Regions from separate parts of the Homo sapiens genome. Here region 2 is linked to region 1. The links come from fine-mapping of genetic effects on gene expression. A gene starts in region 1. The other region holds a variant in brackets. All regions are shown on one strand. Distances are between the middles of the regions. Region 1 holds the start of KIF1B (kinesin family member 1B). Region 2 overlaps UBE4B (ubiquitination factor E4B).

Region 1 (5,372 bases):
GCCACCATGCCCAGGTATTTATTTATTCATTTATTTTTGTAGAGACAGAGTCCCACTCTGTTGCCCAGGGTGGTCTCGAACTCCTGAGCTCAAGGGATCCTCCTGTCTCAGCCTCCCAAAGTGTTGGGATTACAAGGCATGAGCCACCACACCCATCCCAAAATTTTTTACATAGTTCAACCTGAGAAGTTATGAGAATGTATTTATGAACAAATTGAACTTGAATGAAAGCAAAGGCCACAAAGAAGAAAGCAGGCATGCCATCTCTCCAGGTCCTGTCCACATCTAGGATATAGAAAAGAACAGATCTACAGACTCATGCTGAACCCAGTTATTGATCATCTCCAGACCTGCTTTACAATACCAACCTATGTGTAATTCTCATATTCCACCTTCAAACAATACATTAACAACACTTGCTCTATAATCCAGCAACCATATCAACTTAATCAGAAAGCACCACCTCACTTCTTAGAGGAACACAAGAACTAGATTTTGTTATGACTAAACTAAGGAGACAAAATGCCAGCCTTTAAATAAAATATCCACCATGATATCACCTCTTAAGAGTTATTCAAATCTCATCAGCACACTTTCATCAGGCTCAGACAGGCACATCATGACACAAAGCGGAATGTTCAATGGTGGCAGAACAGCTGCTCAGAGCAGTAAGAGATATGAGCAAGGGATCTGTTGACAATCTAATTTCAGCTACCTCGAGATTCCACAAAGATGACAGCCTGCGTCCTCAGAAATGCCGCCACTAGCCTCGCCCACTATCAGAATACTCTGGTTTACTTCTTCTCTGCAAGTCGAGCGACTCTGAAAATCTATCCATCCAATGCTCTACGGCTACTCGAGGCCTCCATACTGATACAGTGGCCTTAGCAATTCTCAGATCGGCCTATGCACATGTAAAGCATCAGCAGGCCTTTCACAGCCCCCGCACTGGACGCAGAAGATGAATAGAGAAACACGGAATTTCACCCCAACAAGAATGGAATCTTGAAGGCAGTTTACCTTGGAAGCTCATTTAGCAATCAAGGAAAAAAAAAAAAAGGGATCTGGAAGCTCCATTCTGGCGTTAGGGGCGGGAATGTTTTGTGTTGCATGAACAATGACTAGCTTGCTCAAGCAGCCTCCCAACCCCCACAACTTGGCTTCTGGTCTGGCCAGTCACCCTGAAAGCTGCCAGGGCTGTCACTCGGTGCCTTCCAACAACTGGACTTGGCTCCTAAAGGATTTGTCAGATCATCCTCCCAATATGGCTGCCCGAGTAATCCCAGTCGGCTGAATGCCGAGACCACACCAGCCTTCCTCACACCTGGCCAGCATCCAACAAGCCCCCTCCCTTCCTATCGCACCCCTCTTTCCAGGCCTCGAGCCCTCGGCTCCCCCAGCGCCAAGCGATGACCTTTCCTATCGCCATCTGGCAAAGGGCATAACCACATTCCCAGCCGAAGCCCGATGCCCACCACAAAGGAGGAAAGGGGAGAGGGAAAATGAGAAACGATGGCTTCAAACGAAGCACAGCCGCCCCCCGGGCTGCAACGTGCGCGGAGCCCAGGGAACGGCCAGGCAGCGGCGGGTCTGGAGAGCGCTGGGCACAGCCGGGGCCTGGCAGCGCGGGGGAAACGGAGGGCCGGTGCAGGGCACTGCGGGGGCCCCAGCCGACCGCTGGACGCCGGCCCGGGACTCGCTGCTGGCCTAGGGAGGGGTCCCCTCCCCCGAGGGCGAGGCTCCCGCACCCGGCGCCCGTCCCGCGCTACCTCCCCTCAGACCCCGCCCGGACCCCGGCCCGGCCGCTCCTCCCCGCGGAAGCGGCCCCCTCCCCAACCCCGCGACCGCGGCGCCAACCGCGGCCAGCCCCGCCGCCTTACCTCAGCCGCGCTGCAGACCGACGGGCGGACCGGGTCAACAGGAGCCGCGGCGCGCGGGGGCGCGGGGGGCCGGGCACCGACGCACCTCAGCGCGAGCAGCGGCCGCCGCGAGCCGCAGGGCGCCGCTCCGCAGCCCCATCACGCAGCAGCCCGGCACCGCATCGAGGTGGGAGGTGGGCGGTGGGCGGCGGACAGGAGTGCGCGAGTGCGGGAGGCCAGGGCGCGGCGACGGCCGGCGGTGACGGCTGCGGAGGACGGGGAGCTGCTCCGACGCGCGCGGGCGCCTCCCAGGACCGCTGCCGTCACACTGCCCCGCTTCGGCCCTCGCGAAACTCCGCCCGCAGTCGCCGGCGCGGGACACCGCCCCGAGCTGGGCCTCTGCGCGTCACCTCGTATCCGCCCCGGCGCCCGCGACGGACACGGGCTGTGACCAATCACAGCACAGAGCTCGGGGCGGCCAGCCAATCGTAGGGTGAGCCGGGGAGTGGGGCTGCTGCGGGGGGCTGCAGGAACATCGAGCGCCCCCTGGTGGCCCTCGGGCCGGCTCAACCAGGGGTGCGGGCTGGCCAAAGCCGGAGCCCGGAGTTCCCTCCCGGGTGACCCCCAAGGGCATTCGTCGGAATCAGCCGCCCCCAGCCACCCCGATAATCCGCCTTATACGGGGACAAAAGATTGACTGAGTGGAGCGGGGCGGGGCCCAGGGGTCCTGACGCCCGCAGAGGAGCTGGGATCAACATGGGAGGCGCCGAGAGTGGAATCATTGTCCGTCGGAAAACATCTCGCAGGCGGAACCGGCCGAACGCGGCGCGGTGGGAGCGGAACCCCGAGAGGGGATGAGCGCATCCCGCGGGAAGCTGCCTGGCCTATTCTTACAGAACCCGAGCAAAACACCTCCCACGCGCCACCTCGGGAGAGAAGGCGGAATGAGTAATGGAAAAGCATGACTTGGTGGGCATTCCACTTGTCTCCTTGGGAGACCGCGGAAGGGCTGTGAGGAGAGGAACAAACGCTTTGCACCGTCCCTGAGTTAACGAGCCCAGCCCCCTTCTGGGAGATGCCCTTGAAGGAGGGAGAGTGGAAGTTAGAAACCCGGAGGACACAAAAGCACGAGCAGTGATTTCTTTAAAATCAGATTTAGATTCAGCTGGAAAGAAAAATCTCACTGTTCAGAAACTGTTCAATTCAGTACTTAACAAAATATAATCTTCAGTGATAATATATTCAATTATCAGGCCCAGGCCGAGCACTATTACTTTATAAGGTTGTGAATTATTTTTATTTACTAGCAGACATTGAAAGTAAAATCACATGTCTTCCCCTGAATTAAATACAGTATTATTGTGAGTAAAAGGTATTATGTACAAGCATATGCACTAAAACATCGAAATTAATTTTCTACACTAATAATTCTGGAAAATCTCCACCACCACTCAAGTCCTCAGACTCTTCATCCGCTTTTATTGATCACGTCTCATTTTATAGAATTTAAGCTCCACCTACCTGCAAAAGGATTTGACATAGCTTACACTAAAGCATACAGCAGTGAAACCGTATAGCTTTAAAATAGGCGTAAAATTCATAATAATGAAACAAGCAAGAGACTTTTTAAAAGCTGTTTGAATGAGAGGCATGCCTAGAAAGAAAAATTTTTTTGTTTTGTTTTGAGACAGAGTTTTACTCTCGCCCAGGCTGAGCTCAGTGGCACGATGTCAAATCTCTGCAACCTCCGCCTCCCAGGTTCAAGCGATTCTCCTGCCTCAGCCTCCCGAGTAGCTGGGATTACAGGTGCCTGCCACCACGCCCGGCTAATTTTTGTATTTTTAGTAGAGACGGTGTTTCACTATGTTGGTCAGGTTGGTCTTGAACTCCTGACCTCAGGTGATCCACCTGTCTCAGCCTCTCAAAGTGCTGGGATTACAGGAATGAGCCACCGCGCCCGGCCAGAAAAACAATATTTTAAAAATCCATAGTCAAGGAAATATGTTGCCACTGAGCACAGAACTCAGCTCTTAGCTTCCTGACGGCTAAGAGTAAAATGAAACTATAGTAGGTTAATAAAGAGGAACTCATCAATTCAACAGTAGACACCACTTCATCATAGCGTGGACCTCCTTGCGTAAATACTGTGGTGAGCGCCATGGAGAGTTACGAAAACCTGGGTGGCTGTATTGCTTGAGCTCTCAATGGAGCACAATCTAAAAAGAATCTAAAACGTAGTGAAGAACCAGGCGCGGTGGCTCACGACAGTAATCCCAACACTTTGGGAGGCTGAGGCGGGTGGATCACTTGAGGTCAGGAGTTCGAGACCAGCCTGACCAACATGGCAAAACCCCATCTCTACTAAAAAATACAAAAATTAGCCAGGCGTGGTGGGCACGCCTGTAATACCAGCTACTTGGGAACCTGAGGCAGGAGAATCACTTGAACCCGGGAGGTGGACGAGGCGGCAGTTGCAGTGAGCTGAGATCCTACCACTGAACTCCAGCCTGGGAGATAGAGTGAGACTCTGTCTCAACAAAAAATAAAATAAAATTTAAAACAAAAACGTAGTGAAGAGGGTGTGATTGTGATTGGCAGGAGAAGAAGCTAGCCAAAGGGCACACAGAAGGCACAGAAGGGTCAATAAAGGCAAAGAAGGCTGCTCCAGGATCCAAGGCCAAACAGCCCACTCTGCATAAGCCTTTTGCCTCTCTGACAGATGAAGTCACACTGCCCAGCCAGTTTCTCAGATTACAAATTCTGTATAAAAGCATCTCTTTAAAATGATAAATAAATTACTAGAAAATTGAATGTAGCCATGATCTGGTAGGGCTGTCTCTGGAATGCAAGGATACGAGAACATCAGAAGTCCTAGTCACGTGGTGCACTGCCACTCTCCCATCACAATCACAATCACAATCAGGTTTCTGGATACAAAATCAATACACAAAAATCCGAAGTGTTCCTTTTTGATAGGAAGACTTTATTATTACTATTATTTTAGACAGGGTCTCACTCTGTCACCCAGGCTGGAGTGCAGTGGTGTGATCACAGCTTACTACAGCCTCAACCCTTGCCCCCTGGTTTAATCCATCCTCCCACCTCAGCCTCCTGAGTAGGTGGCACTATAGGCACACACCACCACGCCCAGCTAATTTTTCTATTTTTTGTAGAGACGGCTGGTATCCAGCTCCTGGACTCCAGTGATCCATCAACCTCAGCCTCCCAAAGTGCTGGGACTACAGGTGTGAGCCACTGAGCCTGGCCTTTATTGCTATTTTTAATGGGATCTTTTTAAAAAATCAAGTCTTCCCGGCCAGGTGCTGTGGCCCACGCCTGTAATCCCAGTACTTTGGGAGGCAGAGTAGGCTGATCGCTTGAGCCTAGGAGTTTGAGACAAGCCTAGGCAACATAACGAGACCCTATCTCTACAAAAAATACAAAAAAAAAAAAAAAAGTAGCCAGACATGGTGGTATGTACCTGTAGTCCCAGCTGCTTGGGAGGCTGAGTGG
Region 2 (5,372 bases), 39 kb after region 1:
TGCCTCAGCCTCCCGAGTAGCTGGGACTACAGGCGCCCGCCACCACGCCCGGCTAATTTTTTTGTATTTTTTTTAGTAGAGACGGGGTTTCACCGTGTTAGCCAGGATGGTCGTGATCTCCTGACCTTGTGATCCACCCGCCTCGGCCTCCCAAAGTGCTGGGATTACAGGCATGAGCCACCGCGCTCGGCCAGCAGTATATATTTTAACATCTACAAGTAACTAAAATTTCCTAACCCTCTTACGAGCCACTACTTTGTATGATAAAACTGCTTTAGACACACAGTCATGTGTCGCTCTGAGAAATGTCTTGTTAGGCAATTTCGTTGCTGTGTAAACATCATAGAATTTACTTACACAAACCTAGATGGCGTGGCCTACACCACGTCGAGGCTCTATGGTATAGCCTATTGCTCCTAGGCTACAAAACTGTACAGTGTGGGACTGTACTGAATCCTGTCGGCAGTTGTAACACAATGGTGAGTATTCTAAACACAGAAAAGGTACAGTGAAAATACGGTATTATAATATGATGGGGCCACATGGTCTTTGTGGTCCAGCATCGACAGAAACAGCACATGACTATGTATTTTTTCACTGCAAATCCTTTGTTAAGACCACTTCCCCTGCTACATCAGAAAGCACCTACATATGTGAGTTATAGCTCAATAAAGCTGTCATTAAAAAAAAGTACCTACAATGCTTCTATTGTAATATTACTCCTTTGGATGAGATATGGGTAAAGAACCTTCTAGAATGCCTACTGATGATTAACTTGAGCCATGAATAGTATTTGGATAAGTAGTGTGAACAAAGACAGAGACACAGAGACAAGCATGGTTCTTTGTGGGCATTTTAAGTGGACAGCAGAGAGACTGAGGATATGGGTTCAAGGCCAGGCTGCCTGGACATGGATCATGCCTCTGTCCCACACTAACTCTGTGACCTCGAGCAAGCTATTTAACCTCTCTGTGCCTCTTTCCTCACTTTAAAACAAAGACTTTACAGAACCTACCTCAAAGGATTTTGTGAGGACTAAATGGGTGGAGATACGAAAAGTGGGTGAAATGAGGTGTACAGTTAATAAACATTAGCTGTGAGGACGTTGAAAATGAGGCAGAACGGACCATGGAGGGGGCCAGCCCTTTATGGGATGACTAGAAGATCACGCAGGGACAGCTTAGCCTAAATCGGTGGCTGTGGAAATGAAGCACACACAGACAGATCTGCTCACAGGAGACCCACGGAATAAAGGAGAGGGAAGAATGTAAAGAAAACCACACAAGATTTTTAATCTGGACAACCCCAAAAATAACAGCACTCTAGCAGGAGACTAGGAAAGAAGATTCTGATCCCTTGAGAAACCGGGCTCTTTTCAGAAATGTAATGGATTTGTCAAGAAGGCCCTTAAAAAGATGGGGTAAGAACTCAACTGGAGAGGGCTCAGAGCGCCAAACCTGCTCTTTACTTTTGTTTTTTACTTACTTACTTACTTATTTATTTATTTTGAGACAGAGTCTCACCCTGTTGCCCAGGCTGGAGTGCAGTGGCACAATCTCAGCTCACTGAAACCTCTGCCTCCTGGGTTCAAGCGATTCTCCTGCCTCAGCCTCCCGAGTAGCTGTGATTACAGGCATGCACCACCACACTGAGGTAATTTTTTGTATCTTTAGTAGAGATGGGGTTTCACCATGTTAGCCAGGCTGGTCTCAAACTCCTGACCTCTTGATCTGCCCGCCTCGACCTCCCAAAGTGTTGGGATTACAGGCGTGAGCCACCGTGTTTTTGAGACAGGATCTCACTCTCTCACCCATTCTGGAGTGTGGTGGTGCAATCACGGCTCACTGCAGTCTGGCCTCAAGCAATCCCCCTGCCTTGGCCTCCCAGAATGTTGGGATTACAGGCCTGAGCCACCGCGCCCAGCCCAAATCTGCTCTTCACACTCAAAGGAAAACAACCCACTCATCTTCATTTACACCAGACGAGTTCCCTGGCCACTGTGGTTATTATCTCCAAATCTGCCAGTAAACTCACAGAGAGACCAACTCAACTCACTGACCTGGTCGTCAGCAATGGCTTTCGCGAACCGAGCACAGTCCAGCTGTAAGTAAATATCCGTCAGTTGGTCCAACAGCTTCTTTGGTTCAAAGCCGTATTTCTCAGGGTTTTCAACTTTCAGGTCACGGCACTTGGGGCCACAAAGTTGCTGAAGATTAAAGTTCAGCATTGCAGCCAATCGGGGTCCAAGCTCCTAGGAAATCACAGGATAATAGGACAATTCATGCTGTTGAGACAAGTGAAAAGGACCAAAAACTCCCATTTCAGTGGAGGAACAGGAATTGGTTGGATTAATCTTCAAAGAATCCTTACAGGTGCTGTGTATCATAAGCTGAAGAAAGACAACATTATATTTCAACTTTACTCCCCATTTCTGATCTGATAATTCTAATACTTAATGGAATGTTGCAGGCTGATGAAATATTTATTTATAAATACCAAAAGAAGCCAAACTTTTCTTTACATTTATGCTTTTAATTAAAAAAAGTATCACTCCAAATTCATTGAGAAACAAGTAAAAGAGAGAAAATTATACAAATCTTACCATTATCTGAGCAAAAAAAGTTTTGAGTCAGCTCTTCCAGCCAGTATTTCATAAACTTTTTTCCCCATAAATGTTAAAAGCCCCTGGCAGTTCAGTCTGTGTCATTCTTATGTACTTATCAGATACAAATAACAAAGTAATGCAAGGAAAGAAGATAAAAGTTATGCCTTGAATAGTTTTAAATCTAGTCAATGAGACAGAGTAAACTTAAATGAAACACCTGGAAAATAGTAATAATCTATGCTGTAATCTCACAAGGTGACTCAGTACCCACTACGGTTGGGCATACATGGTTTTAAGCAAACCTGAAACAGGAAGATGTGGCTTAGAGAGCATTA[A/C]ACACTGGCCATAAAAGGGAGTCACGAAAGCATTCCTTTAAGTCACAAGGTTTTCATGAAATGTAATAACTGGATTTATACAAATTCAACATATACTTAGCTTTTCAAGAATTTGCTTTTGCACAGAGTACTCCTGTATTTCACTGTTGAGAAGCTGTGAAATAAAAGAGTCATAACAGGACAGAGTTGGTCATTCTGTTTGAAGTAGGAGAGATCTGAGCTAGTCAGTAAAGAAGGTGAAAATGCAAACCTTAAAGGTTTGCAAAATGAAATGCCTTTACACTTTGTCTGCAAAGGCCAGATAGTAAATAGTGTAGCAAAGGAAATGAAAACATCACAGCAGGCACAGGCACAGGCTGGGGCCAAAAGAACAGGGCTACAGTGTACAGATGGCTCAGGTCTATGAGCAGGCCTTAAAATAAATTTATTTATTTATTTTTGAGAAGAGTCTTGCTCTGTTACCCAGGTTGGAGTGGCGTGATCTCGGCTCACTGCGACCTCTGCCTTTTGGGTTCAAGTGATTCTCCTGCCACAGCTTCCCAAGTAGCTGGGATTACAGGCATGCACTACCACGCCTGGCTAATTTTTGTATTTTTAGTAGAGACGGGGTTTCGCCATGTTGGCCAGGCTGGTCTGGAACTCCTGACCTCAGGTGATCCACCCTTCTTGGCCTCTCAAAGTGCTGGGATTACAGGCATGAGCCACCGTGCTTGGCCTTATGCCAGGTACTTCTATGTGTGTTTTCGCTTAGTCTTCCCAACAAGTGTACAAAATAGGTGGGTGTTGACCTTGTTACAAAGGAATTAATCAACTATTTACTATCTGGCCTTCACAGAATTCTGCAAACCTTGAAGGGAGGCCAGTGTCTGGCCAGTGAGCTGTTTTGTTTCATGCTCCATGGCCTTGCACTTTGCAAACTTTTAAGGGAGGCCAGTGTCTGAGCTGTTTTGTTTCGTGTTCCATGGCTCTTGCACTGAAATCTGTTTATGAAGAGACATGAGGTGGAAAGTTAAAAGAGTGGAAAAGAGTTGTCCCCAGGCCAGGGAGTGGCAATAGTGCCTCTGCTGATGACAGGAGTCACATAACAGAGAGTCACATAACGAAGGTAAGAGCAAATACAGAAAATCAGGGGAAATATGCAGTAACGTCATATTCCATTGTAAAGTAAACATGTCTCCACATAGGCAAATGGCTACCGAATCTTAGGTCCCCGTCTTGCCTTCCTCACTACCCTTGTCCTGGCCACACCATAAAACTTTTCAACTTTGTGGTGGGGGTGGCTGAAGCAGGGCAGAAATCTTCAGTGATGCTGCTCAGTTTCAATTTTAGAAATAGGAACCAGGTCTTACTAGTTGAGAACAAACATTCTGACTATTTGCAATCCACCATAAACCCTAGTGATGGCCGGCTCCCATTAACCTTTGGCTTCCTGAGTGTAACAAAGGTACAGCTAAGAGAGCCAAAGATTTTACACGGTCTCAATTATTCTACTTAATATCCTTCCATTGTCAACAGCTGTTACCTTATGCTTTTTCTTCTTCTTTTTTTTTTTTTTTTGAGATGGAGTCTCACTCTGTCGCCCAGGCTGGAGTGCAGTGGCACCATCTCGGCTCACTGCCAGCTCTGCCTCCCGGGTTCACGCCATTCTCCTGCCTCAGCCTCCTGAGTAGCTGGGACTACAGGTGCCCACCACCACGCCCAGCTAATTTTTTGTACTTTTAGTAGAGATGGGGTTTCACTGTGTTAGCCAGGATGGTCTCCATCTCCTGACCTCGTGATCTGCCCGCCTTGGGCTCCCAAAGTGCTGGGATTACAGGCGTGAGCCACCGCACCCGGCACCTTATGCTTTTTCTATAAGTAAAATATAGGAATCAATAATGGTAAAAATATGTCATGACATCAACATGAATAATCCAATGTACTGTCTAAGCACAAAGTGCAGTAAGGCATTTGGAAGTGGCTGTAGACTATGTGGTGACATCAGACATCTGCTCTTCAGTCCATCAACAGAGTCTGGTATCAATTAGCATAACTGGGAACAAAATCAGTCACAGAATTTCACTTATTGATGACTGTGATCCTAAAATTTCCAGAACTTCAACAACTGCTAAAGTTATAAGTGAGAGAGTCTGAATGTGGAGTCCAAACCACCAAACAGAGCCCCGGGTTTCTACTCACCGGTCTGAGGAAGGGCTTCTGGACCTGCTTCGTGAGGATGTGGAACATGTCCACGGTTTCGGTGGCCAGGGCGAGGTAAGAGCGGGACACACGCTCATCCTGAGCAAGCTGAGACTGACGAGCCTGCTGCTGATCCTAGGACACATCGAACAGACGCTGAGTAAGGCTCGGTCCTGGTCATCAGCTCAGCAAAGCGCCAAGCACATAACTGGAAAGTGCGTGATAAACCCAACATGCTTAGGGAATGACAGAAC

What was found.
Region 2: its variant is fine-mapped to the expression of KIF1B in activated naive CD4 T cells (Schmiedel 2018, PIP 0.92).

The regions. Positions count from the first base shown.
Region 1 is chr1:10,207,387-10,212,758 of GRCh38, reverse strand. It overlaps KIF1B (kinesin family member 1B), which reads right to left and starts at 2,189. Exons shown (of 49, transcript NM_001365951.3): 1 at 1,881-2,189. RefSeq lists an enhancer at 401-1,056 and silencers at 1,958-2,477, 2,508-2,587, 2,674-2,968.
Region 2 is chr1:10,168,017-10,173,388 of GRCh38, reverse strand. UBE4B (ubiquitination factor E4B) reads right to left here. Exons shown (of 28, transcript NM_001105562.3): 24 at 5,119-5,253; 25 at 2,060-2,251. Among named protein-coding and RNA genes, the nearest start is that of KIF1B, 40 kb to the left of the region's middle. RefSeq lists an enhancer at 2,796-2,845. The variant A/C (reference allele first, on the strand shown) is at 2,941.